4 linked regions of the Homo sapiens genome follow. The protein of the gene in region 4 interacts with the protein of the main gene of each other region in a pairwise test. Each region holds a gene or a part of one and is shown on either strand. Other genes may lie near its edges. The genes, in order: ACY3, BRME1, OLFM2 and KRTAP10-3.

Evidence for each region.
Region 1: the proteins of KRTAP10-3 (region 4) and ACY3 interact in a two-hybrid assay, tested with the Homo sapiens proteins (2 studies listed by BioGRID and IntAct).
Region 2: the proteins of KRTAP10-3 (region 4) and BRME1 interact in a two-hybrid assay, tested with the Homo sapiens proteins (2 studies listed by BioGRID and IntAct).
Region 3: the proteins of KRTAP10-3 (region 4) and OLFM2 interact in a two-hybrid assay, tested with the Homo sapiens proteins (2 studies listed by BioGRID).

What each region holds. Positions count from the first base shown.
Region 1 is NC_000011.10:67,647,731-67,654,849, forward strand, and holds the start of ACY3 (N-acyl-aromatic-L-amino acid amidohydrolase (carboxylate-forming)), read right to left. Parts: upstream 3,001-7,119; 5' UTR 2,853-3,000; intron 1-2,852. UniProt on the Homo sapiens protein: Plays an important role in deacetylating mercapturic acids in kidney proximal tubules. Also acts on N-acetyl-aromatic amino acids.
Region 2 is NC_000019.10:13,882,112-13,889,136, reverse strand, and holds the end of BRME1 (break repair meiotic recombinase recruitment factor 1), read left to right. Parts: intron 1-3,081; coding exon 3,082-3,176; intron 3,177-3,642; coding exon of another isoform or gene 3,643-4,018; exon of another isoform or gene 4,019-4,634; intron 4,635-5,736; coding exon 5,737-5,829; intron 5,830-6,184; coding exon 6,185-6,335; 3' UTR 6,336-6,789; downstream 6,790-7,025. UniProt on the Homo sapiens protein: Meiotic recombination factor component of recombination bridges involved in meiotic double-strand break repair.
Region 3 is NC_000019.10:9,933,513-9,941,523, reverse strand, and holds the start of OLFM2 (noelin-2 isoform 2 precursor), read left to right. Parts: upstream 1-5,008; 5' UTR 5,009-5,157; coding exon 5,158-5,220; intron 5,221-8,011. UniProt on the Homo sapiens protein: Involved in transforming growth factor beta (TGF-beta)-induced smooth muscle differentiation.
Region 4 is NC_000021.9:44,557,266-44,563,093, forward strand, and holds KRTAP10-3 (keratin-associated protein 10-3), read right to left. Parts: upstream 1,531-5,828; 5' UTR 1,451-1,530; coding exon 785-1,450; 3' UTR 525-784; downstream 1-524. UniProt on the Homo sapiens protein: In the hair cortex, hair keratin intermediate filaments are embedded in an interfilamentous matrix, consisting of hair keratin-associated proteins (KRTAP), which are essential for the formation of a rigid and resistant hair shaft through their extensive disulfide bond cross-linking with abundant cysteine residues of hair keratins.

The sequences.
Region 1 (7,119 bases), on a different chromosome or scaffold from region 4:
CTTGTGCTGCCACGGCCCAACGAGTCCAGGTCCTGCGGGCAAGTTCCTGCCCCTGCCCTTCGTCCTTCTGCTGGGCCCCAGAGGGGCCACCTTCCTTAACACTACTAAGAGGTACACCCGCAGTGGGGTGGTGACTTGGTTTTGGTCACCACCAGAGCAGGCTATTGAAAGTTACTATAGAGGTGTCACCTTGATGGCCACCAAGATGACAAGCTGCCCCTCCTTCACCACCTCGGCAACATGCCTCTGTCCTTGCAGCCCGGAGAGGGCTGTGGTCACTCCTGAGTCGCCCTTACCCAAAGGTGCCATGTGGAGCCCCAGTTTTACAGCTCTTTGTTGCTTTAAGCAAAATTTTAAAATGTTTGATCCGGGATTTCAGTCATTTTCAAGGACAGTGTAACTCAGATGACTCGGTTTGCCCTGTTTTGGGAACAACCCTCAGGCTCATTTTATAGATGTGAAAACTGAGGCTCAGAAAATTGTCTGCAGGCACACAAGCCCTAGAGGCAGGCTGCAGGTGGCCCACAGAACCCTAGGGGCAGACTGTTCAGCGGCACACAGAGCCCTAGAGGCGGGCTGCAGGTGGCGCACAGAGCCCTAGAGGCGGGCTGTAGGTGGCACTCAGTGCGTCCAATGTGGCTCCATCCCCTCCTGCTGCCTCTCAAGAGCAAAGTGGGGAAGGATGAAGGTGAGGTCCCCTGCACTCAGCCCTGGGGCCTCTACCTCCCACCAGGCTCAGCTGTCTGCTGGGAGGAGCTGAGGCCAGTTCCGAAGTCACTGGGGAGTGAGGCAAGCTGCTCCGCCAGGGCCTGCTGGATGCCAGGTGCTGGGACCCTGAGCTGGAGCCTCCCCCAGGCATCGATCCTGGGCCTTCTTTACCACCACACTGGGTCTCCCCGGGCCAGTCCAGCCCTGCTCCAGATGCCAGGCCCACCAGCCTGGGGGGCTCTGGGTGGCCAGGACCCTCTAAGTTACACCCTCTCGGAAGCTGCCCCAGATCACACTCAGCTCTGTGTGGCCTGGGCTCTCCTGCCCTCCACACCCAAGGCTTCGTGAGCTCAGAGCATGGCGATTGTGGGGACAGGGGATTTGTCATCCTGGCTCCCATCAGGGCAGCTGGGATCTTGACAGGGTGTCAAGAGGGGTGGATGGAGTGTGAGGCTGAGCCCCCAGTGGGCCGGGGCTCCCTATGAGCCCCCTCCAGGGGCCACTCCTCCTGGCACCTGGAGCCTCAGCAAAGGGAGGGCAGAGACTGCCATTAGGGGGCCATGCCATGCCATCAACTCCTGTATCCGGCCCAGCCCTGGGGGCAGCTGTCACCGGCTCCATTTTGCAGGTGTGGACTGAAGCTCTAGGGGTTGGGTGACTTGACTGAGTCCTTGGCAGGTGGTGGGAGAGGGAGTCAGCAGAGGAGCCTGTCGGCCTGGGTCTGTTCCTTCCTTGCTTGGGGTAGGGGTCTCAGGGACCCCCATGCTGCTTTATGAGTCCCAGGCCATGGTCTTTGTTGGAAGGCCCCCCCAACCCCCACAGAGGCTGGGATCCTGCTGACTCGGTGTGGTACCTCTCAGGAAGGAAGGGCCTCCGTGGCAGACCTAGCTATTTTGGGGGCTGCTGGGGGCCAGGGTGCTTCCTGCCACAAGGTGCTGGGCCCCCAAGTTTAGGGAGAACAGCAGTAGGGGTGCTGGAAAGTTTCACTTCCCTTGGCTGGGGTCCAGCTTCTGCATTTCAGTGAGTGTTTATGGAACAGAACGGGGTCCAGGAACCCTCAGAAACAGCAGCCCCCAGTCCTGGCAGTGTGTGCGCGTGTGTGCATGTGTGTGCATGCATGTGTGCATCTGTACATGTGTGCGTGTGCATGAGAGCATGTGTGTGCGTGTGTGCACTCACATGTGTACGTGACAGCATGCGTGTGTGCGTGCGTGTGTACATGTGTGTGCATGTGCATGAGTATTGTGTGCATGTGTGCATGTATGTGTACATGTGTGCGTGTGTGCATGAGAGCATGTGTGCGTGTGTGCGCATGTGTGACAGCATGCATGTGTGCGTGTGTACGTGTGTGCATGTGCATGAGAGTATTGTGTGCATGTGTGCATGCATGTGTGTGTACATGTGTGCGTGTGTGCATGAGAGTGTGTGTGCATGTGTGTGCATGTGTGCATGTGCTTGAGAGCGTGTGTGCGTGCATGTGCGTGAGCATGTGTGCGTGTGTGTGTGTTGTGTGCACACGTGTGACCTGGCTCTGGCCCCACCTCCCTGACAGGCTGTGTGACCTGGAGAGATTCAGTGCCCTCTCTGGGCCTTGGCTCCACCCTGTGAAAGTCCTGGCCAAGGGCAGCTGTGGGGAGTGAGGAACAAAGGGCGGGCACAAGCTTGAAAATGGGCACATGGAGACCCCAGCATGAGTGAGGGCAGAGGATGGTGATGTCATGGGCATCATCACGGGGGCCAATTTCCTCACTGCAGTTGGGGAAACTGAGACCCAGAGAGGGGTCAGAGCTGTGGTTCCCCCCTGTGTCAGCATCCAATTAGATCATGCCTCCCAGCATCACCTCATTGCAAGATGCAATCAGATCACGCCTCATTACCCTATGCTTATAAAACCTGCCCCAGCCCTCAGCTCGGGGAGACACTGCTTTGGGAGCTGTCTAGGTGTTCTCCTTACTTGTTGCAAGAAATAAAATCCCCTATTAAATCCTCTTTAGTTAACACCCGCCAAGCAACTGAGCCCACCCGTTGTGTGGGTAACAAAACTCTGGCGACCCAGATGGGGCCGACTGGGATTCTGATCCTAACTTCTTGAGGCTCACTAAGGTAAAGCAGTGGGCCGCGGCACCTTCCCCGGGCGAACTCACCCACGTGGCCCCAGAGGGTTGAGGGTGACTCCCGGGGATCTTCTGCTTGCTGCGTGGCCCGTGGGGCTGTCACTCCGCCCTACCCCCGAAACAGCGGAAGCAGCTGCCTGGAGCTTTTGTTCTGTGCTGCTCCTTCAGGGAAGAAAGTGGACTTTGCCCCGTGGGTTGACTGAAAGGGTAAATTCTTTGGACCTAGCAGTGGGATCTCTAGACTTCAGCGCAGGGCACCTCTGCTTTCGGTTTCTGTCTGGCTCTACGTGCCGTGGGGGATTGAGAGGCATCTCTGGCCAGGCCAAGGGCAACCCGGATCCCGGATCTGGGTAGACAACAGTGGGACTAGTTTTGGGAATTCGTTTTTTTTTTTTTGAGACAGAGTCTGGCTCTGTCACCCAAGCTGGGGTGCAGTGGCGCGATCTCGGCTCACTGCAAGCTCCACCTCCCGGGTTCACGCCATTCTCCTGCCTCAGCTTCCTGAGTAGCTGGGACCACAGGCGCCCGCCACCACGCCCGGCTAATTTTTTGCATTTTTAGTAGAGACGGGGTTTCACCGTGTTAGCCAGGATGGTCTCGATCTCTTGACCTCGTGATCCGCCCGCCTCGGCCTCCCAAAGTGCTGAGATTACAGGCGTGAGCCACCGCGCCCAGCATGAGAATTTGTTCTTTTTTAGAGAAACAGAATTTTTCACAGGAGGCTGAGCTGCTCCATCTCCCAGAGCCCCTACTTGCCATACCCCGGGTTACCAGAAACAGGAGCTCTGCCATTTGATGAAAAAAATACTTTTTTCAGATAAATGTTTTTGTCATATCATCACACAAAGCGGGTAAAGTTGTATATATATACATACAACTTTTTACAAATATGTGATCATATGTACAAAGGCTAGAAGGAAATATACAGAAAAATATGTATTAAAATACTGGTTTTTTTTCATTGTTTTATAAGATACTCTACAAAACATTACAATGAGGTAGGACTATTTTAGTGCTAGAGAATCTCATTAAATGAATTTGTTCAAGAGCTTCTTTGTCAGCTGGGTGCAGTGGCTCACACCTGTAACCCCAACACTTTGGGAGGCCAAGGGGGGCAGATTGCTTGAGCCTAGGTGTTCAAGACCAGCCTGGGCAACATAGGGAGACCCTGTCTCTACCAAAAAAAAAAAAAAAATTAGGGTGGGCGCGGTGGCTCACACCTATAATCCCAGCACTTTGGGAGGCTGAGGCGAGTGGATCACCTGATGTCAGGAGTGTAAGACCAGCCTGGGCAACATGGCAAAACCCCGTCTGTACTAAAAATACAAAATTTATCCAGGCATGGTGGTGGGTGCCTGTAATCCCAGCTACTTGGGAGGCTGAGGCATGAGGCAGAGGTTGCAGTGAGCCGAGATCATGCCATTGCACTACAGCCTGGGCGACAAGAGCGAAACTCTGTCTCAAAAAAAAAAAAAAAAAAAAATTAGCCAGGTGGTGGCACACACAGCTGTGGCCCCAGCTACTCAGGAGGCTGAGGCGGGAGAATCACTTGAGCACGGGGAGTTGGAGGTAATCGTACCGTGAGTACAGTGAGCCGTTATCGTATGGCTGCATTCCAGGCTAGACAACACAGTGAGACCTTGTCTCAAAAGAAAATAAATAAATAAATAAATAAATAAATAAATAAATAAATAAATAAAGAGCTTCTTTGTCAATATCCTTTTGTGGGTATACATCATAGTCCCACAGTACTTCTTCAACCCAGGGAGATAAATGTGTATTAGTCTGAAGACCCAGGAGAGAATCTTCAAGACTTGGCACTGTCACTGATGATGATCTGCTTCCTTACATTATGACAAATGTATTCCCAGCTCCGGCTTGTTCTGCCTCATTAAGAGAATATTTGAAGACATTATTCATGATAGCAGCATCAGCATTTTGCAGAAGAAACCCTGGGGACAGATGTCTGCATGAAGCACCTTTATTCTGTGAATAAACTGGTATTTTTTAATGACCATTTCCTGCAACTGGCAAAAGTCTCCGTTCAGTTCTACTCCACAGGGTTGCACTGCTAAGCTATAAGATCACCCCATAAAGACTGTGCTGAGCCTGGAGCTGACGTCAGCCACAGCCTTTCCTGATTGATCAGGGAGTGCATGAAGATAAATGAACTTCAATTCCATGAGGGAGAAGGAACGAGCAATCGGTCTAAAGGTTCTGTTTGGTGTGAACCACCCAGTAGTTTCTGCTCATTTTCCCTTTGTCACATAATGAATCAATGAAGTCTTTATCACAAAGGAATGCGTCAGCGTGAATGGTGGGTTCTGGCTGCTGCTGTAGTTTTTGAAGGGTTAGATGTTCTGAGGAAAGCATGGTTTCTAGAGGCAAGCAATTCTGAAGGTCTTCTGCAGTGGGTTTTTTTTTTTTTTAATTTTGAGACAAGGTCCGGCTCTGTCACCCAGGCTGGAGTGCAGTGGCTCGACTGTGGCTCACTGCAACCTCCAACTTCCAGGTTCAAGCAGTCCTCCCATCTCAGCCTCCCAAGTAGCTGAAACTACAGGCACGCACCCAGCTAATTTTTTTTTTGAGATGGGGTCTTGCTATGTTGTCCAGTCTGGTCTCAAACTCCTGAGCTCAAGTGATCCACCCCCTTCAGCCTCCTAAAGTGCTGAGATTACAGGCATAAGCCACCACACCCAACCTTTCTGCTGTGTTTTTAAACACAATGTCTTTATTTCCTTCAGTGAATTCATCAAAATCTCGGGCAGTTTGCATCTGCTGGAGCAGTGCCGGGCGGTCGGCAGAGCCACAGTATAGAGCAGTTACAAGATTTCCTGCCTTGCCGAGTGAAATCTATGCCTTCCAATTTTTTTTAATTAATTAATTTTTAAAAAATTAGATTGGTACAAAAGTAATTGCAGTTTTTGCCATTACTTTCAATGGCAAAAACAGCGGTTACTTTTGAACCAACCTAATATTATAGAGACAGGGTTTCACCATCTTACCTAGGTTGGTCTCGAACTCCTAAGCTCAAGTGATCCACCCACCTCGGCCTCCCAAAGCGTGGTGATTATAGGCATGAGCCACCATGCCCGCCCCTCCCCACCAATATATTTTTAAAACTAGTTGAGTGTGGGCCAAGAGTTGTGGGATCTGTGTCACCACCAATCCCGCCTCTAAGCTGCTGGGTGGGTAATATGGGAAAACAGTAATTGTAGCAGGACTCCAGTGGCAGAAGCCATGCGGATAAACTACAAAAAGCAGAAGGGACACTGGGGATGCTGACATCTCCATTGGTTGAGATTACCCTTAAGGTATTGAGCAACTGTGGCCAGGTCCAGGAAGGGCAAAAAAAAAACAAAAAACAAAAAACAAAAAGGCAACACAAGACAAGAAGCCATCGAGTCTCTTGGCTACAACCAGCCAGTACACAAGAAACAGTTCACTGCGGCCAGGCGTGGTGGCTCATGTCCGTAATCCCAGCACTTTGGGAGGCTGAGGCGGGAGGATCACCTGAGGTCAGGAGTTCAAGACCAGCGTGGCCAACATGGCTAACCCTGTCTCTACTAAAAATATAAAAAATTAGCCAGGCATGGTGGTGGGCACTTGTAATCCCAACTACTCGGGAGGCTGAAGCAGGAGAATCGCTTCAACCCAGGAAGCGAAGGTTGTAAGCTGATATCGCGCCATTGCACTCTAGCCTGTGCGACAAGAGCAAAACTCTTTCTTGAAAAAAACAAAAAACAAAAAAACAAAACAGTTCACTGGAGATGATCAGCCATAAGTAAGATCCCTAGGGACCCCACTGCCCGGCCAAAGGGCCTCCCGCCCTTGAGAACACAACAGTGTGCATATTGTAAACAAGAGGGCCATTGGGTACTAGAGTGTCCTAACTGTCCCCAGTGGGTAGGGAAAGAAACTTCCCCGTCAATCAGCCCACCAGATGCTACAGTTTGCTAATAGTGACCAGAAGTGATGGGACTTGGGGACTCCTCTATGATCTGGGAACCCCTAGATCGGGTAACAATTGCTGTGGGAGAGACTCACGGGTTTTCCGACACTAGAGCCAAATTTTTGCCTGTCTCCTTTCTACCGTGTTCTTCCTAAAATTTAGGAAAGGGCTTCTGCTGTATGGGAGAGATAAATTTTAGCTAAAATTGTTAGTTGGACGGAGACAGAGTTGGAACTGTCTTTTAAGTAGTGAATTTTACCTGACCCATGGCTAAACCTTTAAAAGTTAAAGCTATAGGATCGTTATTTGTATCTGGTAGTATGTACACGTCCGGTTATATTTGGC
Region 2 (7,025 bases), on a different chromosome or scaffold from region 4:
CTCCACAAGCCCCCTCCTCACTCGGTGCAGTGGCAGAGGGGGAGCTGGGGCTCAGGGCTTACCATTTACACAGCCAACGACTATAGGAGTCCGAGTTGCAGCTCTACTGGGTGTGGAGTCGGTGGTTTTCCAGAAAGTGTAGACCTGCCTTTTGGTGGTTGTCGACATATCTAGGGATGGTGACACACAGCTGCTTTCTCAGCCGGGCCCCCCACATTGAACTGGAGTCCCCAGGAGTGCCAGCCCCTGGCAGCTTCTGCTTCAGTGCCTGACCCTGGCCGTGGGGTCCCAGGGGATGTATTGAGGCGGGTAGACACAGATGGAGAGAAGCTGGGCCTGGGGATGGCTTTATACCTGGGCCTGGGGAGGGGGCTTCACTCCCAAGCTGCAAAAGAGCCTTTGCCCATCTCCTTAGGGTCCTCTGGGGGTCCTGATATGATTCTTTTCCAAACATACATAAGTCATTTTGTTTTTCTGCCAGAACGTGTAAGGGCTTTGCCTCCTTCAGGGATCTGCCCGCCCCACCGGCTGCCCGGATGTGGCCTCCTCTGGCTCCAGAGCCGGTGCCAGCCGTTGGCGTTCATTCTCCTGTCTGGGCAGATGGCAGCCTTGCTTCAGCCCTGCCCCCCAGGGAAAGAGCGACCTCCCTAGCCGTTGGCACACCTGAGCCTGGGCTGAGGGCATCACAGTCACGCCCAGGGAGGTAGGCAGTTCTCTGTCCACACACTGGGTGTGGCAGTGAAGACTCTGGAGGAGTTCGTGCGCCTGCTAGAGGTGAGGCAGGTGGGAGGGGAGGAGGCCAGGCTGGCACCCAGGTCATGCCCCAGCCGCCGCGTCCTGGAACGCAGAGTCCAATTTGCTTTTCAAATGTCAGCCTCTGTTTCTTTGGCTGTCCCTGTGTTGAGATGTTAAAAAAAAAAAAAAAAATTCATGGCCAGGCACAGTGGCTCCCACCTGTAATCTCAGGACTTTGGGAGACCGAGGCAGGAGAGCAGGACCAGCCTGGCCAACATGGTGAAGCCCCATCTCTACCAAAATACAAAAATTAGCTGGGCATGGTGGCGTGTGCCTCTAATCCCAGCTACTCCGGAGGCTGAGGCAGAAGAATCACTTGAACCTGGGAGACTGAGGTTGCAGTGAGCCAAGATCGCGCCACTGCACTCCAGCCTGGGCAAGAGAGCAAGACTCTCTCAAGAAAAGAAAAAATTAGCCAGGCATGGGGATGCATGGCTGCAGTCCCAGCTACTTGGGAGGCTGAGGCAGGAGAATCACTTGAGCCCAGGAGTTTGAGGTTGCAGTGAGCCGAGATTACACCACTGCACTCCAGCCTGGGTGCTGAACTCCCTGTCTCAAAAAAAAAAAAAAAGTGAGTCACAGTGTGGTTCAGTGGTAGAGGCTGAACACGAGCATGTGGGAAAGGCAGGAGTTCTGGTGCTGGGCACAGCTGAAATTTTATGAGAGCTTCATGCCTTGCAAAATGCAAATCCCTCGCTTGAGAGAAGAGCCGCCTCCATTGCCTCCAGTCTGTGGTCTCGTGAGTGGTGGCTTGGAGAGAAGGCTGGGAAATGGTTAAGGTGTTTGGGGCCAGGTGTGCCTAGGTGGCATCCAGCAGGTGAAGCCCCTAGCCCTCCTAAACGGGCTGCCAAACTGCAAGCTTGGAAAAAGACCCTGAAATCCAGACTTGGGGGGATCCAGACAGACAGCCAGGCTGGTCAAACCCGACCAGCATTAGCAGCCTTTCCCCAGCCAGGGGAGGAGGCACCGCCCTGACAGCACTGCCAGGGCCTGGGCGTGTTTGGCTTTGACACGAGGCGTTCCCCAGCAAGTTGAGGCGACCCAGGCAAGGAACACATTCCCGTGGGAAGGTTCCGGGTGGCTCCCGGCAGGAAGGCCGAGGCCCGTGTCTCCCAACATGGGCAGGGGCACGGGGAACAGCAAAGATGGATCGAGCGGGCCGTCTCAGCACCTCCTCCTGACCTCACTGTGGCCACACACTGTGCTAGAGGAGGGGACTCAGAGGTGACACAGCAGAGACAGAGCTTTCAAACCTCAAACCAAGGTCTCGTCATGGGAGGGTTTGGTGTTACTTTCTCATAGATCCTTTGCACTCACTCTTGGACTGATGGAGCTTCTGCAATCTGCATATGGAGTCATTTAATTTAAATTTTAGAGACAGGGCCTTGCTCTGTCGCCCAGGCTGGAGTGCAGTGGCACAATCACAGCTCACTGCAGCCTCAACCTCCCGGGCTCAAGCAGTTGATCCTCCTGCCTCAGCCTCCCAAGTAGCTAGGACCACAGGTGCGTGCCACCATGCCCAGCTAATTTTTTTTTTTTTTTTTTGTACAGACAGGGTCTCGCCGTGTTGCCCAGGCTGGTCTGGAACTCTTGGCCTCAAACAATCCTCCCACCTCAGCCTTCCAAAGTGCTGGGATTACAGGTGTCCCCAGCCTGGCTCATTGCCTCTTTTCTGAGGGACATCATAGGTCACCACTGTAACGGAGCTTAACATTTTCCATGGAAATTAAACCACCATTGACGCTTAGAAGCTTAAGCGCCGTGGAGTTACCAGGCTTTCCCCTGTATTCACTGGGAGTTTTCCCCTCGTGTTATATTTGCAAACTCCTTTCCTAACAGGATGTCTGTGGCACATTCAGCCAAGGTAGACGACTCCACTTCACCGCAGTTGCCCCCGCTTTGTGTTTTCTCTGTACCCGTAAAGACAGTGAGGGGCATGCAGGAGACTGCAGTGGTGTCAGGGCCAGAGATCATGGCACAGTGGTGCCCCCACTGCCCAGATCAGCCTGTGGGAGGCCCGGGCCTAGGAGCGGACACCAGGGTTGGCTGTGGCCTTTCTCTTTCCAAGGGGAAAGGACGGGCGCAGCCCAGGCTGGTAGCCTCGGGTCTACCCATCGTGGATTTCCTCCCCGTTACCGCTCTTCCTCTGCAGGAGTCCCAGCCAGCCCCGATGTGACCTGCTGTGGCCGCGGTGAAGCCAAAAGCATCAGCGTGACTTCTGGTTCCCCTGTGCAGAGCTTGCCCGACCCAGGCCTCGACCACTCACACCTTGTGCTCTCTTTCCAGCTCTTTCCTTCGGGGAACAAGCCGGGCCCTTGCTGGCCGGGCCCCAGCTCACATGCCAATGGAGACCCTGTTGCAGTGGCCAAGGCCCAGCCGAGGTAGGTGTGGCGTGGGTGAGAAGTGGCTCCAGGACCCTCACAAATTTTACCAAGGAGGGTGACAGATGGAGGAGACAGACCCCAGTTCTCCCTCCCTGGGCCTCGACTTCCTCAGTCCAGCAGGGGAGCTGAGCCCTGTCTTTCAAACTGTATACATTCCCCTGCTCCCCGAAAGCAGAGAATGGGCGACAGTGACCAGTGATCGACACCCAACCCAGCATCTCCCCACCCAGAAGCTCCCCAGGAGCCCTGGGACAGTGCCTCCGGCTCTGTGGGCTCTTTCTCTCTGGGAAGAGGGGCCAAAGCTTCCTCCTGAGTCCCTGGGAAGGGGAGGGGACCCAGACAGGGCTCAGAACTGTTGGCTGAGACCATCTTGGAGCTGTTCCTAGCTCTGGCACCAGGCGGGCACCCGAGTGAGTCTAACCTGCCCTCACCTCCTCCCCTCCCCACTTGGCTCTTGCCCTAGGCGAACCACCTCCTCCCTCCCACAGGCCACCAGTGAGCCGTCCTCCAGCCTGCTGTGTGTGAGGAGGGCACCCTCTCCCCCGCACCATGCCCGGGGTCTCCGCAGCCTGTCCCCTCCTCCCGTGCCCTCCCACAGCCCTCCTCGAAGCCAGCGCTGGGTGGCTGCCCTCTCTGTTACCTGGCACTTGAACCTGCCTCTCTGCAGAGGCGGCAGCTTATCAATTATTTATGGCCAAGTTTCTGTTTCTGTCTGGCAGGGGTGGAGGAGGGTTTGGGACTCAGCCCTTGGCTGTGTGTGGCCCCCACACCCTCCTCCTCCTTCTCCTCCCCTAGCAGAGGGCGGCTCTGTCCCTGCCTCCTGCCGTCACTCCCTGTGACTTGTACCTGCTGTGCCACTGGCCACCTCCCTTAGCCACACACACAACCTGCACGTGGACCAGAGGCAGTTCATCAGAGCGGCCCGCTGTGGTTTGAGTGAAGAGCCGGGAGGGTTCACATCTGAATCTCCGACAGCGTCCCAGGGCCAATGCAGCTCCCCTCCCCACCGTCCTGGATGTCTGGAAGCTCCCAGAGGGCCCCGGGTCTGGTTTGGTGGCTTGAGGCTGAATGACACACACAAGAGGCTAAGACCCAGGGGCTGCCAGACACCTCAGGGTGACCAAGGCAGGAGCAGCAGGACAGCAGTTTCCATAGTGACAGCCCCGGAGGTGCTGCGAAGCCTGGGGCATGGGCGGGTTTAGGGCGGGTGGCCCCCACTTACCCGCCTGGCCACCTGTACTGCCTGTGTCTGAGAGTGGCACCTGTTCTGTGGGGTGGGGGAGGTGTTCTGTGGCTCCTTGGCTCTTCCGTGATTTTTTTTTTTTTTTTGAGACACAGTCTTACTCCCATCACCCAGGCTGGAGTGCAGTGGTGCAACCTCAGCTCACTGCAGCCTCGATCTCCCAGGCTCGCATGATTCTCCCACTTCAGCCCCCTAAGTAGCTGGGATTACAGGTACCCGCCACCACACCCGGCTAATTTTGTATATTTTTTTTTAGAGATGGGATTTTGCCGTGTTGCCCAGGCTGGTCTCAAACTCCTGGATTCAAGTAATCCACCTGCCTCAGCCTCACAAAGTGGTGGGATTACAGGCATGAGCCATCGTGCCTGGCGGGATATTTTTTAGATAGAGTCTTGCTCTGTTGCCCAGGCTGGTGTACAGGATCATAGCTTACTGTAGCCTCCATCTCCCAGGCTCAACTGATCCTCCCACTTCATCCTCCTGAGTAGCTGGGACTACAGGCGCGCACCACTATGCCTGGCTAATTTTGTATTATTTGTAGAGATGGGGGTCTCACTACATTGCCGAGGCTGGTCTTGAATTCCTGGGTTCAAGCCATCCTCCCACCTTGACCTCCCAAACCTTCCAAGGATATGAATGCCATCTGGGCTGGCCTTTCTAGCACTGCCCTGGGTGCTGGGGAGGCAGTGTGGGACAAAACACAGAGTTGAATGCTACTGGGGGATTCGGGGTGTGGGGACATGAGAGACAGCAGATTAGATAGTCAGATGGCAGAGTGTTGGGGAAAAAAAGGCAGCGGAGAAGGGGTTAAAATGTAAGGAGGAATCAGGGAAGCCACCACCAGGAGGAGACATTTGGGAAAGAACATTCCAGAATCCTGAGAGGTGCTCAAGGAATGGCCAGGAGTCTAGTGTGGCTAGAGCCGAGGGGAGGGGAGAAGCGGGGGATGAGGGGAGGGCACGGGGCAGGCAGGTGGTGCACAGCTGCGGGAGGAGAGGGCTTGCCTCTGAGCTAGGTTTCCAAGTTCACAGCCCCCAGTGCCTGTGGGGGACAAGCCACAGGGGCAGGAGATAGGGAGGCGGTGGCAGCAGCGTCCTGAGAGGGCAGGGCAGGTAGGGGAGAAGCGGTTGGGTTCTGGGCCTGCTGGGCAGTGGAGCCAGCTGGGTTGGCCATCAGGGTTCTGTCGTGAACAGAGGAGGACAGGCTGGACACCTGGAAAAGATGGCGCGAGGCCCTGCGGAAGCCCCTCCCACTGGAGAGCTCTGGTAGTCCAGTGAGGTCGGGCCACTCTCAATTTCCTTCCCTGCTGGCCAGGACCTTCGTGGGGATCCAGGCCTCTGAGGCCTCCAGGATGGAGGATGCCACCAACGTCGTGCGTGGCCTCATCGTTGAGCTCTCCAACCTGAAGTACGGGGTGGGCTTGGACTCACGGCACAGGGTCTGCGGGAGGCCAGTGGGGACTCAGAGGAGCAGGGAGGGACTGAAGTGTGAAGCCCCTAGGTGGGCAGCGAGGGTCAGGCACCTCACTGCTGCTGGGTCCTCACCGTGGCCCCCCTCCCCCGTCCTTTGCAGAACACAGGCTCTGAAGAAAGGCTGCAACAGGCCCAGCCTGTGCTACAACAGGCCCTTTCTGGTTATGTGCACGTGTGTGAGCCGTGTGTGTGCACCTGAGTCATTGGTGACCATGTGGCTGTGAGGCGCGGCCCCCTCTGTCACCTGGTGACCACTGAGCCCCACACGCATGCCTGTGTTTCCCCCACAGCCGGCTGATCATGGGCACCCACCGGGACCTGGAAGCTTTCAAGCGCCTTAACTACCGGAAGACAAAGCTGGGAGGCAAAGCCCCCCTGCCTTACCCTTCCAAGGGGCCTGGGAATATCCCTCGAGGGGACCCACCCTGGAGGGAGTTGTAGGCCACTTTGAGGTCTGTGTTTCCTTTGCCACCCAGCCCCCATGTCCGCAGACCTCCTCCAAGATGCTCCAGGGGGTCCTAGTGGACCCTACAAACCTCCCTTCAGTTGCCCGGAAGTTGGTCTTCCATGGACAACACAAAGGAGGCCGTGAGGTCCTGGCCTCACCTGGCCAGGGTCAAGGTCATTTGCCACCCTTGGCTTCAGGGAGGGAAACTGTGTCTCCCACAGCCCCAGTGACTTCAAGCGGGCCTGGGCTCCAGGAAGCTGGCCACCTCTGAGCAGGGCCCATCCTGTCCGGATTTGCAAATTTTAGGGTCCTGAGCCAAGTATGGATGGTTCAGAATTTGTTTCTTTCCTGGAGGAGAAGAGAGCTCCCTTTGTTTTCTTTCTCCCCATTTCCATTTTATTTCTTCTGGGAAGACCCATAATAAATGATTCTGTAGAGGCCCCGTGACCTGCTGTTTGGGGCTGAGGCTTCAGTTCCTTCACCTTCCGCCCACAAACCTCTCTACCCACTTCCTCCTCCTCGCCCTCTACGAGTTTTATGCCTCAGCTTCCCTGGGAAAGCAAGGGGGGGGCGAATCTCCAGGGGTGGGTGACTGTGTGCCCACATCTGTGTGCAGGCTCTTGAGCATACACGCGGGTCGAAGCCTAAGAGACGCCCTGGGCGATCATCCAGCTGCAGGGTGA
Region 3 (8,011 bases), on a different chromosome or scaffold from region 4:
CCAAAGGACCTCTAAATAATATATTCAGGGATTAGCAAGAGCAAAGGTATGTGTTGGCAGGCATTCACTTCATGATCATTTTCTCTATGAAGTGGGTGGTGCAGGGTGTGAGGAAACAGATGTGGGCTGTGAGAGGGTGACAGGAACCCATGGCTGTCCAAGTTCCTGTCTAATTGGCTGTCCAAGTGCCAATTAGAAAAACCCAATGGCCAGATGGCAAGATCCAACGCCCTGCCTCCCTGCTTCCTGTCATGGAGAATGACCTGTGCCCAGTGCCAGACCCTGAGTCCCCAGTTCATCCATTTTGCCACAATAGATCCTTGAGAAGCGGATCCTGATGTCTCTTCAATGATGGCCCACAATTCTGACCACTGCACCATAGACAGTGCACTCTTCTTAACATTAACCACAGTGCTGACCTTGAAGCTGATATCAGTGCAACTAGGATGCTGAGTGTGACTTTGACCTTAGTATGACTCAATCATAATTTTGACCATAGCTTGGCCAGGTCATTATCCACAGCAAGCTCAGGACAAGGACCATAGCACTAGGACAGAGCACAGCATAACCAGGAAACTGACTGTAGTACTAATCACCACACTGACCACAACACAACCAAGAATGACCAGGAGTGACCACAATTCTGACCACAATGCTGACCCTGGCAGAACCAGGATGTTGACGGCAGCACAGATCCCGGTTCAACAGGACACAAACCACAATGCCATCAGGACACCCAGAGGGCCACTAACCATACCAGTCAACGACCAACGGCATCGAATGCATTGACTAAGGTCCAGTCAGAAAAACAGCCCATCCCAGCAAATTCAATAGAAAGAATTTAATATGGGGACTTTAATTAGCCACACACTGAGGTATTAGGTAGGTAGGTTTGTTTGTTTGTTTGCTTTTGTGGGGTTTTTTGAGACAGGGTCTCACTCTGTTGCCCAGGCTGGAGTGCAGTGGAGTAATCATAGCTCACTGCAGTCTCGACCTTCTCAGGCTCAGATGATCGTCCCACCTCAGCCTCCTGAGTAGCTGAGACTACAGGTGTGCACCACCATGCCTGGCTCATTTTTGTATTTTTGGTAGAGATGCAGCATCTCTACAGAGATGTTGGCCAGGCTGGTCTTGAACTCCTTGGCTCAAACAATCCACCTGCCTCAGCCTCCCAAAGTGTTGGGATTAGAAGTGTTAGCCATGGCACTCAGCCGATAGGTAGGTTTTGTTTTTGTTTTTTTCTTTTTTGAGACAGAGTTTCACTATTGTTGCCCAGGCTGGAGTGCAATGGCATGATCTCAGCTCACTGCAATCTCTACCTCCTGGGTTCAAGCGATTCTTCTGCCTCAGCCTCCTCAGTAGCTGGCATTACAGACACCTGCTACCATGCCTGGCTAATTTTTTGTATTTTTAGTAGAGACAGCATTTTGCCTTGTTGGGCAGGCTGGTCTCAAACACCTGACCTCAGGTGATCCACCCACTTCAGCCTCCCAAAGTGCTGGGATTACAGGTATGAGCCACCGCACCTGGCCCTATTAGGTTGGTTTTAAGCGCAAACTGGAGCAGGTGAATCAACTCTAGTTGCTAGCTATCATCTTTGCAAGGACTGAAACAACAAAGGGAGGTGGTAGTTACCTGAATCCAGGAGCTGCAGTTACCTGGCCAGTCACCTGCCCCCACCCCCCACCATGGTGGGGAATACCTAATGGGACTGAGACCACAGAGGAGGCACAGCAGCCATGGCTAGAGACACTCAAAGTGGAGGGGGGGAAATTCTCTGGCTTCTCCTTTCTTGGCACCCTCCAATCTGCCTGTAGACCTCCCATTGGCTGAGCCTAACCAGATGCAAAGAAGCCTGGGAAATGTAGTGTGTAGAGAACCTGAGAAAGATAATTTGCAGGAGCCATTGCCCTGATACAGAGGGGAGCAGGGGGAAAGTGGGGAATAGATCTAAGTGCATATCGACCAAATTCCAACCATATAACACAGGCTGTAGCTTAGTTGTAACTGTGATCGTCTTAGTGACCAGAGCCCAAGGAGGACACTGTTCATGGTCCTGAAATGCAGCATTCATGAGTCAAGAGTGCTGACTCTTGACCGTGAGACCCACTCTTGGTCAAGAGCTTGTGGGTCCTACCAACCAATGTCCTCCTTTTATGCAATGCCAACTGCAGGCTTGGCCTGAAGGGCCCACAAAGGACTGTCTCCCATTTGGGAAAAGGAGATAGAAGAATAGGATGGGTGCGGTGGCTCATGCCTGTAATCCCAGCACTTTGGGAGGCTGAGGCAGGTGGATCACCTGAGGTCAAGAGTTCATGACCAGCCTGGCCAATATGGTGAAACCCCATCTCTACTAAAAATATGAAAAATTAGACAGGCCTGGTGGCAGGCACCTGCAATCCCAGCTACTTGGAAGGCCGAGGCGGGAGAATTCCTTGAACCCGGAAGGCAGAGGTTGTAAGCCGAGATCAAGCCACTGCACTCCAGCCTGGGTGTGACAGTGTGAGACTCCATCTCAAAAAAAAAAAAAAAAAAAAGAGATAGAAGAATAAACAGGATGTCTTCGCAGGCTCAGACTCTATTTTGTGTCCACATCCCATGATGAGTGTCCTCAACCCAGTGCATGGTTGGTTATTGCAAGGCGTGCTGGGGAGTGAGTGCTAGCTAGGTGCTCTCTTTGCTTAGAGTCACAGATGTCTCCCAATAACTGCAAAAAACAGGTCTTCTAAGAGGGGGAAAGCTTTTTCCCTAAGGTCACATGGCCAAGAAGTGGCAGCACCAGGGTTGAACCCAGATCTGTGGGTCACCAAGCTCTTTCTCATTGACCTGACAAAACCATCATCGACATGTTTTATCCCCAGTAGGGTTGAGACAGGAATGATCCAGGGTGGTCACAGGCAGCCGTTTCACATGACTAGAGGCTATGGGCTGATAAGATCCTGAAAACCAGGGTGTGGACCAAGCTGGCTAAGACCTACTGGACCCAACATGGCGTTACATTCTACCTAGGTTTCACCTAGGATCTCATTATGTACTCATTAAAATACTAAAATTACCCACCCACCAGCGCCCTTGACAATTCCAGGGACACCCAAATTTGGTGTAAAAGTGGGTGGCACCACAGTCCACCTTTTTCCAGTTTTCATGAATATTCCATCCCTTGGTTAAAGAGATACACAGTGGCCTGTTGTGGTGGCTCACGCCTGTAATCTCAGCACTTTGGGAGGCCAAGGCGGGTGGATCACGAGGTCAGGAGTTTGAGACCAGGCTGGCCAATATGGTGAAACCCTGTCTCTACTAAAAACACAAAAAATTAGCCGGCTGTGATGGCGCACACCTGTAATCCCAGCTACTCAGGAGGCTGAGGCAGGAGAATTGCTTGAACCTGGGAGGCAGAGGTTGCAGTGAGCCGAGATCACACCACTGCACTCCAGCCTGGGTGACAGAGCGAGACTTTGTCTCAAAAAAAAAAAAAAAAAAAAAAAAAAAGAGACACATAAAGGTAGCAGTCCCAAACCACCTTGCCCATCTCTCTCTCTTAAGTACGCCCACTCCCTTTTCTCAAGTGTGGACTTTTCCCTTAACAAAAAAATCTCCGAACTTTTCATGATTTTCTGATTCCTCCTTGAATTCATTCTTGCGATGGTGTTAAGAGCCTGGACACCAGCTGGGGTCGAGGCCCCACCAGCGTCTGGGGAGACCCCTCCTAGCCCAACAGTATCAGGGTCACAAAAATGCCAGGCTTCCTGGCCTCGCATATTTTATGCCCGATTTCTTTCCAATCTGACTTATTTGCCCGCCCCCCTCCTCCACCTCTGCCTACATATATCCGAATCCCTAGAGGGGCTGTGGGGAGGAAAGACGACTAGGGACACTTTTTTTTTTTTTTTTTTTTTGAGACAAGGTTTGCTCCTGTTGCCCAGGCTGGAGTGCAATGGCACGATCTCTGCTCACTGCAACCTCTGCCTCCCGGGTTCAAGCGATTCTCCTGTCTCAGCCTCCCGAGTAGCTGGGATTCCAGGCATGCACCACCACGCCCGGCTAATTTTTGTATGTTTTAGTAGAGGTGGGGTTTTGCCATGTTGGCCAGGCTGGTCTTGAACTCCTGACCTCAGATGATCCACCCTCCTCAGCCTCCCAAATTGCTGGAATTACAGGCGTGAGCCACCGCGCCCGGCCTAGGGAGACTTTTGGAGGAGTGAGAGGCAGAGAAAGGCTGGAAAGCCTCCCGAAAGTGAGGCTAGACAAGGACGCCCTTCATATGCAAATGGCTTCGCGTGGAGGCGGTGTTAATATTTTGATTCTCTCGGGGGATGTGGTCTTTCATCTTGGGCTATTGAAACAGGGAGCGAAGAGAAACTCTTCCAGGTGTGGCGGAGGCGGGGAGGCTTCCAGCGGGAGGACTGGTGGGGAAATGGGGCGCCCGGGGAGAGTGAAAACGAGACGCCCCTTTTTGAGGCCAAGCCCACCCACGTGGCCATTTCCATTGGCCTCTTGCCTGATTCTCGGTCTCCTGTCCCCCCAACCTCAATTTTTTCCTCTTATTCCCCGTCTCCATCTATGCCTCACCCCTCTTGTCCTGGCATTGACCCCTCCTCCAACTTCCAATTTCAGATTCTGCCTCAGTTTCCCTGTTGACTCTTGAGTTTTTAGGGAGGGGGCGTTCATCATTTCCCCTCTCTGCTACCAGGCCTTCCTCCTATTCCTCTCCCCCAACCATTCGTCCCCGTCCCACCTGCAACGTGGGAAATGCCCCCGGAGGGTGAAATTTACAAACACGTGACGGGCACCCCTCCCCCACCTCCGCGACCCGCTCCCGGAATGGCCTGGGGGTTGGGGGGCGCTGCCAAGTCCTGTCCTCAGGTCCCCTCGCCGGCGCTGGCTCCCCCACTTCCCCGCCCCCACCCCCCCACCCGACCCTGCTCGAGCTGCTCCCGAAGAGGAGCTGGGGGCGGGGCGGGGGGCGGAGCCCGCAACAAAGACTCGGAGCGAGCGAGGGGGCGGGGGTGGGGCGGAATCCCGGCCGCCGGCGAGGCGGGGGAGGCGGCGGCGCAGGGTCGCCCCGGCCGGGCGGGCGGGGTCGCGCCTGGTGGCGGTCCCCGCGCCGAGGCGCCGCTAGGGCGGGCGGGGGTCGGGACGCCGGGCTAGGGGCGCGTCATGTGGCCGCTCACGGTCCCGCCGCCGCTGCTGCTGCTGCTGTGCTCAGGCCTGGCCGGACAGGTAGGGGCCCGGCGGGCAGGTGCGGGCGCGGGTGGCTCCGGGAGAGGAGGGGGGCGCGGAGGGTTCCCGGAGAAACGGGGTTGGGAGGCTCCACAAGCCCCCCCAGCTGCAGGGCGGCGAGGGGCGGGGGTCGCAGCGGGGGAGGGGCCGGGACGTGCACTCTCTGGCTTGGGAGAGGACGAGGGGGGCTTCAAATCCAGCCTCAAGCTGGGCTGGTTTGGGGGGTGGCGTCTTTGGGGTTCTCAACCCCTCCATGGCCCCGAGCCCCCACCCCGCCATCTCGCTGGAGCTGAATGGGGTTGGGAGGGAAACTTCAGGGGGCATTGGAGGGGGGCGGTTGCTTACCCTTGACTTCCTCTTCGGGGCCGAGATGCCCAGTTTCTGAAGCCCTCCACTCCTCGCCTGCAGCCCCCAGTGTGGGGCAGGGGACGGGACTCACGTGAGAGTGACTGACGGGGACGCGTGTGAAATGCTGTGGGGGTGCAGGGTAAACGTGTGTGTCTTTGTGTCGTGGTTGGGTGTGACCGGGGGGAGTTTGTGTGTGTGGCGGTTGGGGGGCTTGTCCAACTAGTGCCCGAGTTGGGGTGTGATCAGTACGTGAGACAGAGTCTGTGTGTGACCGTGTCCTCATTACTGGCTCCAGATGACTGGGTGTTGTACAATACGTGTGTGGCCAGGTGTGTGGCCGTGTGAGAGCCTTGGAGTGAGCGTGTGCTATTCTGTACCTTTGGGTAAATCACTCTAAAAGGGTGTGTGTGTGTGCAAGCGCTGTGTGTGCAAACGTGTCCATCCATGCACGTGTGTGTGTGTATCTTGGTGCCTTGCTCACAACCGCACACGCCATTCATACCCTTACAGAAGCGGGTCTCCCTCCCCATGGCACCTTTCTCTTGGGCAGGCTCAGGGAGGCTTGCAAAATGTGGGGCGTCCACGCTCTCTTTTGCTATTGGAAAGCCCCTCTCCTCCTCCATCTTGGGAGTGAGAGCACCCCCAAGTTCTCAGATCTGTAGGAGTTCACAGGGAAGCTGGGATCAAAAATAATAAAATAGTCATTATGATAACAGTGATCATTCATTACGTGCTAATTTGAGAGGTGCTGTTTCAATCACACAGCACAGACTAAGGCATTTAACCCCCTCTGCCTCCTCCCTACTAGAGCATGGTATTGTTACCTCATTTTATGGATGGGGAAACTGAGGCGCAGAAAAGTTAAATCACTTGCTCAAGCTCGAGAGTGACAGAGGTGGGACTGAACCGAGGCAGTCCGGCTCCTGAGCCCACACGATTACCCTCTTGTTAAATAATCCGCTCCATGGGTGTGGACAGCGTCCGTGAAGACATTGCTAGGTGGGCTTTTAGGTAGATAGGCAGGGGAGAAACAATTTGGGCACCTTCCCCTTATCAAGAAAAGAATCAGACCCTTGTGCTCACCCCGAGGGGGGTGTTGGGAGGAATGGAGGTTAGACTCCAGATAGAAGGATTTCCAGGCCACGAGGAGAGATTGTGGGGTCCCCTCCCTCGCTCCTCCATTTCCCCACGCATCTCAGCACCCACGCGCTGGGTGGGATAGGGAGTGTGCCCAGCCCCAGGCATGAGGACACACACAATAGGTACTCAATGGATGTGTGAGCCTGAGAGAAGCCAAGAGACACACCTGGGAGACGAGAGACCAAAAGAGGCACACACTTGAGAAACCAGTGGAAAAAAAATGAGCCAGGAATCAAGTTGAATTATCCTTGACCTAGCAGAGGAGACAGAGAACCACCCCCTGTGGCTTCTCCTCCACTCCCTGCTAGGGGGGCACTAGATTTTCTGGCTTCTCACCAAGATTGGCTAGGATGCCAGAGTTTGCTGCCAGAATTGCAATTGGAGGGTGACTCCTACAGCCCCCAGGGCTGGGAGGGAGTTGCTTTGGGGGCGGGACTAACGAGGTCAGTGGAGGCGGGGCTAAAGGACAACGGGGGCGTGGCCAAATGAGGTAATCCGTTAGGGCGGGGCTGGTGGAATCCTGCCGCGGGCTGCAGTGCCTCCAGGCGGCCACCGCGGGAACTACATGGTTGTGAAACAGTCTCGGCGCCCCATACACCCCCTTGGCGTTGGCCCACCAAGCCTGGCACCCCAGGGAAGGGAGGGGTCTGCAGAGAGGATGCTCTACCCACTCTTCGCTCCCTCCATCACTTTCCAAAGACTTCTTCCCTGTCCCTGATGGGCCCAGGGGTCCTTCCTAGAAATCATTGGTTAATCCATTCAATGAACAGATATGATTATGCACTGGGGATACAGCCACCAACTGAGTCATCAAATCCCTGCTCTCCTGGAGTTGACCTAGCAGAGGAGACAGAAAAGAGCCGAATAACCATGTAATACGGTGTCGGCAACTAAATATACATATAATACAATGCAAGTAGCATGAAGAATAACAGATAAAGTATAGAAGATTAGACTGGAGCCGGGTGCTGTGGCTCACGCCTGTAATCCCAGCATTTTGGGAAGTTGAGGCAAGTGGATCGCCTGAGGTCAGGAGTTCGAGACCAGCCTGGCCAACATAGTGAAACCCTGTCTCTACTAAAAATACAAAAAATTAGCTGGGTGTGGTGGCAGGCGCCTGTAATCCCAGCTACTAGGGAGGCTGAGGCAGGAGAATTGCTTGAACCTGGGAGGCAGAGGTTGCGGTGAGCTGCGATCGCCATTGCACTCCAGCCTGGACAACAAGAGTGAAACTCTGTCTCAAAAAAAAAAAAAAAAAAAAAAGATTAGAGTGATAGCAGTCGGGCATGGAGGCTCACGCCTG
Region 4 (5,828 bases):
AAGGACAAAGGTGGTTACTCAGCTGCAAACAGTGAAGCACACAAGGAAACGACACCATGAGCGAGAACTGGTGGAAATGACAGAAAGCTGAAATGGACCCACAGAGACTTCAGGCATTGGGATGACCGTGCACAGATATTTGAAATAAGAGATCAGCTCTAAAATGTCTTCCAGGAATGAGAAATATTTATTTTATTTAATAAGAGAGGGCTGGTGAGAAGATGATGAGTGGGGGTCAGACAGGCAGAGGAAGGAGAGAGGGGGAGGAGCTGAGCCCAGGGAGAGGCCGGGCCGGGTGGGTGTGGGGGATTCACAGAGAAGCACCCCCGGGGCCTGGAGACGCTGAGGCTGGCAGGAGAACCCCACAACAGCAGACCCCGCACAGCGGGAAGTCAGGACTGCCTCCGCCCCTGGTGCTGTCAGCCTGGATGCAGCTCAAGGCCAGAGTCCCGAAGCTCCCACCCCACGCGGCACGTTGAAGTTCTTCCCACAGGGTTTGCCAGATATGCAAAAAAGACCTCTGAGAGGGCACATTGGTGACTTTATTTGTTGACAGACTGATCACTCACATGGGGCAGGACACAGTGACCACCGGCTGGCCAGCATGGAGATGAGGGTGTGGGAGAGATGCATGCCTGGAGGGAATCGGCATGAAAGCTCAGCATTGCTGGCTGGAGGTGCAGTGGCTATGGGCAGAGGAGACTCAGACAGGGCTCAGGGCTGCAAGGATTTTCGGAAGTCAGAGATGGCCCTGGAACAACTCTGGAGAAACGGGACCTGCCCGTCAGCAGCTGGACTTCTGGCCTGAGGAGAGGCCGCAGCACGCGGAAGAGAGGCGGGAGCACGTGGGGCGGCAGAGGAGGGACACGCAGGAGGCCGGGCGGCAGCAGCTGGGCTGGCAGGTGGAGGCAGGGGCACAGCAGGAGGGGATGGGCACACAGCAGGTGGACCTGCACACGGGGCGGCAGAGGAGGGACACGGAGGAGGAGGGTCTGCAGCAGGAGGTGGTGCAGCAAGCCGGCTGGCGGCTAGACTGCTGGCAGCATGAAGAGGAAGCCCCAGAGCAGACGGGCACACAGCAGATGGGCTTGCAGCAGACAGGCTTGCAGCAGACGGGCACACAGCAGACTGGCTTGCAGCAGACAGGCACGCAGCAGGCCTGCTGGCAGGGGGAGGATGTGCAGCAAGCTGGCTGGCAGCTAGACTGCTGGCAGCACGAGGGCGTGCAGGAGCTGGTGCAGCCTGACTGGCAGGGGCTGGGCTCACAGGCCGCCTGGCAGCAGGGGCTGGACACACAGCTCACTGGGGTGCAGACCAGGGTCAGGCAGGGGGCCGGGGCGCAGCAGCTGGTGGCGCAGCAGGGGGGCTCACAGCAGCTCTCTGGGCAGGCGTCCACCTGCCAGGAGTCAGAGTAAGCGCTGGAGCAGACGGACATGGTAGACGTGGCCATGCTGGGGTGGGGAGGAGGTGAGCTGGGGGAGACGTGAGTGAGTGAGTGTGGGAGTGAGTGAGGGAGTGAGTGAGTGATCGTGCCAGGCCTCTGAGTGGTCGGAACCTTTATACCCCTCTGTGTTGATTGTGCTGCCCCTGCCTGGCTTCGAGAAGCCTTCCTCTTCCTTGTTGTTGTTGTAGGCACTGTTGTGTTAGTAGTGTTGGTTCATTGTTTGTGGATGTTCTGGTTTGTGAGGCTCCTGACTGGAGTTAGGGCTTCCCTAATGTGGGCTTGTCCACAGAGATAAACTAGTAGAAATATATTGATTGCATCAAAGCACACTGCAGAAGCAGGGACAGTGGCAGTTAGGAGATATTCTGGAATTGACAGCCCTCTGCTCCATCCCAGGAGGAGTTTGCACTTAAAAAAAGACTTCTACACCTAAGGAGGGATGAGGTTAGGAGAACCTCAGTTTCTGGGCCTTGAGGAAAGGGAGAGATGTGTTCTGCTGTGGACAAGTTTGAAGATGCTCAGTTGGCCTGGCCACACGGCGAGATCCACCCTGTGGGTTGACACTGCTGGTTGTCAGTGGGAACCATGGGGCATATTTCTGCTGGGGGTGAGCCCTGGGGCAGGTGTGAGGGAATAGTGTCTTCCTGGGCAGAGATTGGCTCGCAGAGGGGAGCAGGGAGGCAGCTGCAGGCCCAGCACAGTAGGGATGGAGATGAGGGGCAAGCACCTTTGTTTCATTTCACGTTGAACTGTTATGGGGCCTTCCCCCGGTGGTGTGCACAATAGTGTTCACACCTTCTCCTCTCACATCTCGGGCAACATCACCTGCAATGGTGTCCTTGGGAGCTCCAAGGTCTCTTCCCTTATGGGCCAGAAAGTCATCAGAATGTATTAGTTCTACTGTTGGCTCCTGGACATTGTCATAGTAAATGTACAAATAAAAGGGTCTGATTGCAGAGCCTTGTCTCACAAATACCTATACACCTGTGTGTATCAGCCCATGCCTGTGCCCGGGACCATACCTGTGCGCTAGTAAGCCCCCAAAGTTCTGATCATGGATCCCTCATCTCCTCACTCTATGATCGCTATTTTCTACTAAATCTTTGAAATGGCAAAGGCAGAGGCTCTGATGATGCTCTAGGCTGCAGGGCTTTCCAAAATTAGGCCAGGGGTCCACTGAGTGCTTGGTGGGGGCCCATAGGCTGCAGGGTTTGAAGCCTCTGACCTTTGATGAGTATGGCTAAGGGCTCTGTTGGAGGACTACCTGGCAAAGTCAGACTACAGTGGAAAAATATTATTTCATAGAAATAATAGCTGGACACAGACTGGCAAATTGGATGAAGAGTCATGACCCGTCAGTGTGCTGTATTCAGGAGACCCATCTCACTTGCAAAGACACACATAGGCTCAAAATAAAGGAATGGAGGAAAATGTACCAAGCAAATGGAAAGCAACGTAAGCAGGGGTTGCAATCCTAGTCTCTGATAAAACAGACTTTAAGCCAACAAAGATCAAAAAAGACAAAGAAGGGCATTACATAATGATAAAGGGATCAATTCAATGAGAAGAGCTAATTATCCTAAATATATATGCACCAAATATAAAAGCACCCAGTTTCATAAAACAAGCTCTTAGAGACCTACAAAGAGACTTAGACTCCCACACAATAATAGTGGGAAACTTTAACACCCTGCTGTCAATATTAGACAGATCAATGTGACAGAAAATTAACAAGGATATTCAGAACTTGAACTCAGCTCTGGATCAAATGGACCTAATAGACATCTGCAGAACTCTCCACCCCAAATCAACAGAAGATACATTCTTCTCAGTGTCACATGGCACTTATTCTAAAATTGACTTTATAATTGAAAGTAAAACACTCCTCAGCAAATGCAAAAGAACTGAAATCATAACAAAGTCTACCGGACCACAGTGCAATCAAATTAGATCTCAAGATTAAGAAACTCACTCAAAACCACACAACTACATGGAAATTGAACAACCTGCTCCTGAATGACTCCTGGGTAAGTAACGAAATTAAGGCAAAAATCAAGAAGTTATTTGAAACCAATGAGAACAAAGAGACAATGTCCCAGAATCTCTGGAACACAGCTAAAGCAGTGTTAACAGGGAAATTTATAGCACTAAATGTCCACATCAGAAAGCTGGAAAGATCTCAGATCTACACCCTAACATCACAATTAAAAGAACTAGAGAAGCAAGAGCAAACAAATCCAAAGGCTAGCAGAAGACAAAAAATAACTAAGATCAGAGCGGAACTGAAGGAGATAGAGACATGAAAAACCCTTCAAAAAAATCAATGAATCCAGGAGCTGGTTTTTTGAAAAAATTAACAAAATAGATAGATCACTAGCTAGACTAATAAAGAAGAAAAGAGGGAAGAATCAAATAGATGCAATAAAAAATGATAAAGGGGATATCACCACTGATCCCACAAAAATACAAACGGCCATCAGAGAATACTATAAACACCTCTACAAAATAAACTAGAAAATCTAGAAGAAATGGGTAAATTCCTGGACACATACACCCTCCCAAGACTAAACCAGGAAGAAGTTGAATCCCTGAATAGATTATAGCAAGTTCTGAAATTGAGGCAGTAATTAATAGTCTACCAACCAAAAAAAGCCCGGGACCAGATGGATTCACAGCCAAATTCTACCAGAGGTACAAAGAGGAGGTGGTACCATTCCTTCTGAAACTATTCCAAACAACTGAAAAGGAGGGACTCCTCCCTAACTGATTTTATGAGGCCACCATCATCCTGATACCAAAACCTGGCAGACACAACAAAAAAAGAAAACTTCAGGCCAATATCCCTGATGAACACTGATGTAAAAATCCTCAATAAAATACTGGCAAACTGAATCCAGCAGCATATCGAAAAGCTTATACACCACAATCAAGTCAGCTTCATCCCTAGGATGCAAAGCTGGCTCAACATAGGCAAATCGATAAATGTAATCCATCACATAAAGAGAACCAATGACGAAAACCACATGATTATCTCAATAGATGCAGAAAAGGCCTTCAAGAAAATTCAACATCCCTTCATGTTAAAAACTCTGAATAAACTAGATGTTAATAGAACATATCTCAAAATAATAAGAGGTATTTATGATAAACCCATAGTCAATATCATACTGAATGAGCAAAAGCTGAAAGCATTCCCTTTGAAAACCAGCACAAGACAAGGATACCCTCTCTCATCACTCCTATTCAACATAGTATTAGAAATTCTGAACAGGGCAATCAGGCAATAGAAAGAAATAAAGAGTATTCGAATAGAAAAAGAGGAAGCCAAATTATCTCTGTTTGCAGGTGACATGATTCTATATTTAGAAAACCCCATCATCTCAGCTCAAAAATTCCTTAAGCTGATAAGCAACTTCAGCAAAGTCTCAGCATGCAAAATCAATGTGCAAAAATCACAAGCCTTCCTACACACCAACAACAGACAAGCAGATAGCCAAATCATGAGTGAACTCCCATTCACAATTGCTACAAAGGGAATGAAATACCTAGGAACACAGCTAATAAGGGATGTGAAGGAGCTCTTCAAGGAGAACTACAAATCACTGCTCAAGGAAATAAGAGAGGACACAAACAAATGGAAAAACATTCCATCCTCATGGATAGGAAGAATCGATATCATGAAAATGGCCATACTGCCCCAAGTAATTTATAGATTCAATGCTATTCCCATCAAACTACCACTGACATTCTTCACAGAATTAGTAACTTTCCAAAATTATTGAAAAACATTAATCTACATATCCAGGACCTCAGAAAACTCTAAGGTGGAGACACACAAAAGATACGCAAACAGACATATCATAGTAAAAATACTGAAAGTCAAAAACAAGGAGAAAATCTTGAAAGCAGCAAGAGAAAAACAAGTTATTTATAAGAGAACCATAAGAAGAGCAACAGTTCACTTCTTATCAGAAACAATGGGCACCAGAAGGTAGTATGATGGTACATTCAAAGTGCTCAAAGAAAAAAAAGTCAGCCAAGAATTCTATATCCAACAAAGTTGTCTTTCAGAAATGAAGGCAAAATAAAGGCATTCCCAGATAAATCAAAACTGAGGGAATCTATTACCTGCAGATGCATCTTACGAGTCATACTAGCGTTCCGCAGACCAAAAGCAAGTAACTCCAGACAGAAATTCAAATCCACACAGAAAAACAAAACAGCAGTAAAACTAATTATGTAATTATAAAAAGTAGTACAAATGCATATTTTCTCCTTTATTCTCTTAACTGATTTTTAAAAAGCAATATAAAAAGGTATATTTGGTGTTGTTGGGCCTATAACATATAGAAATCTAATATATTTGGCAATAATAATACAAAGG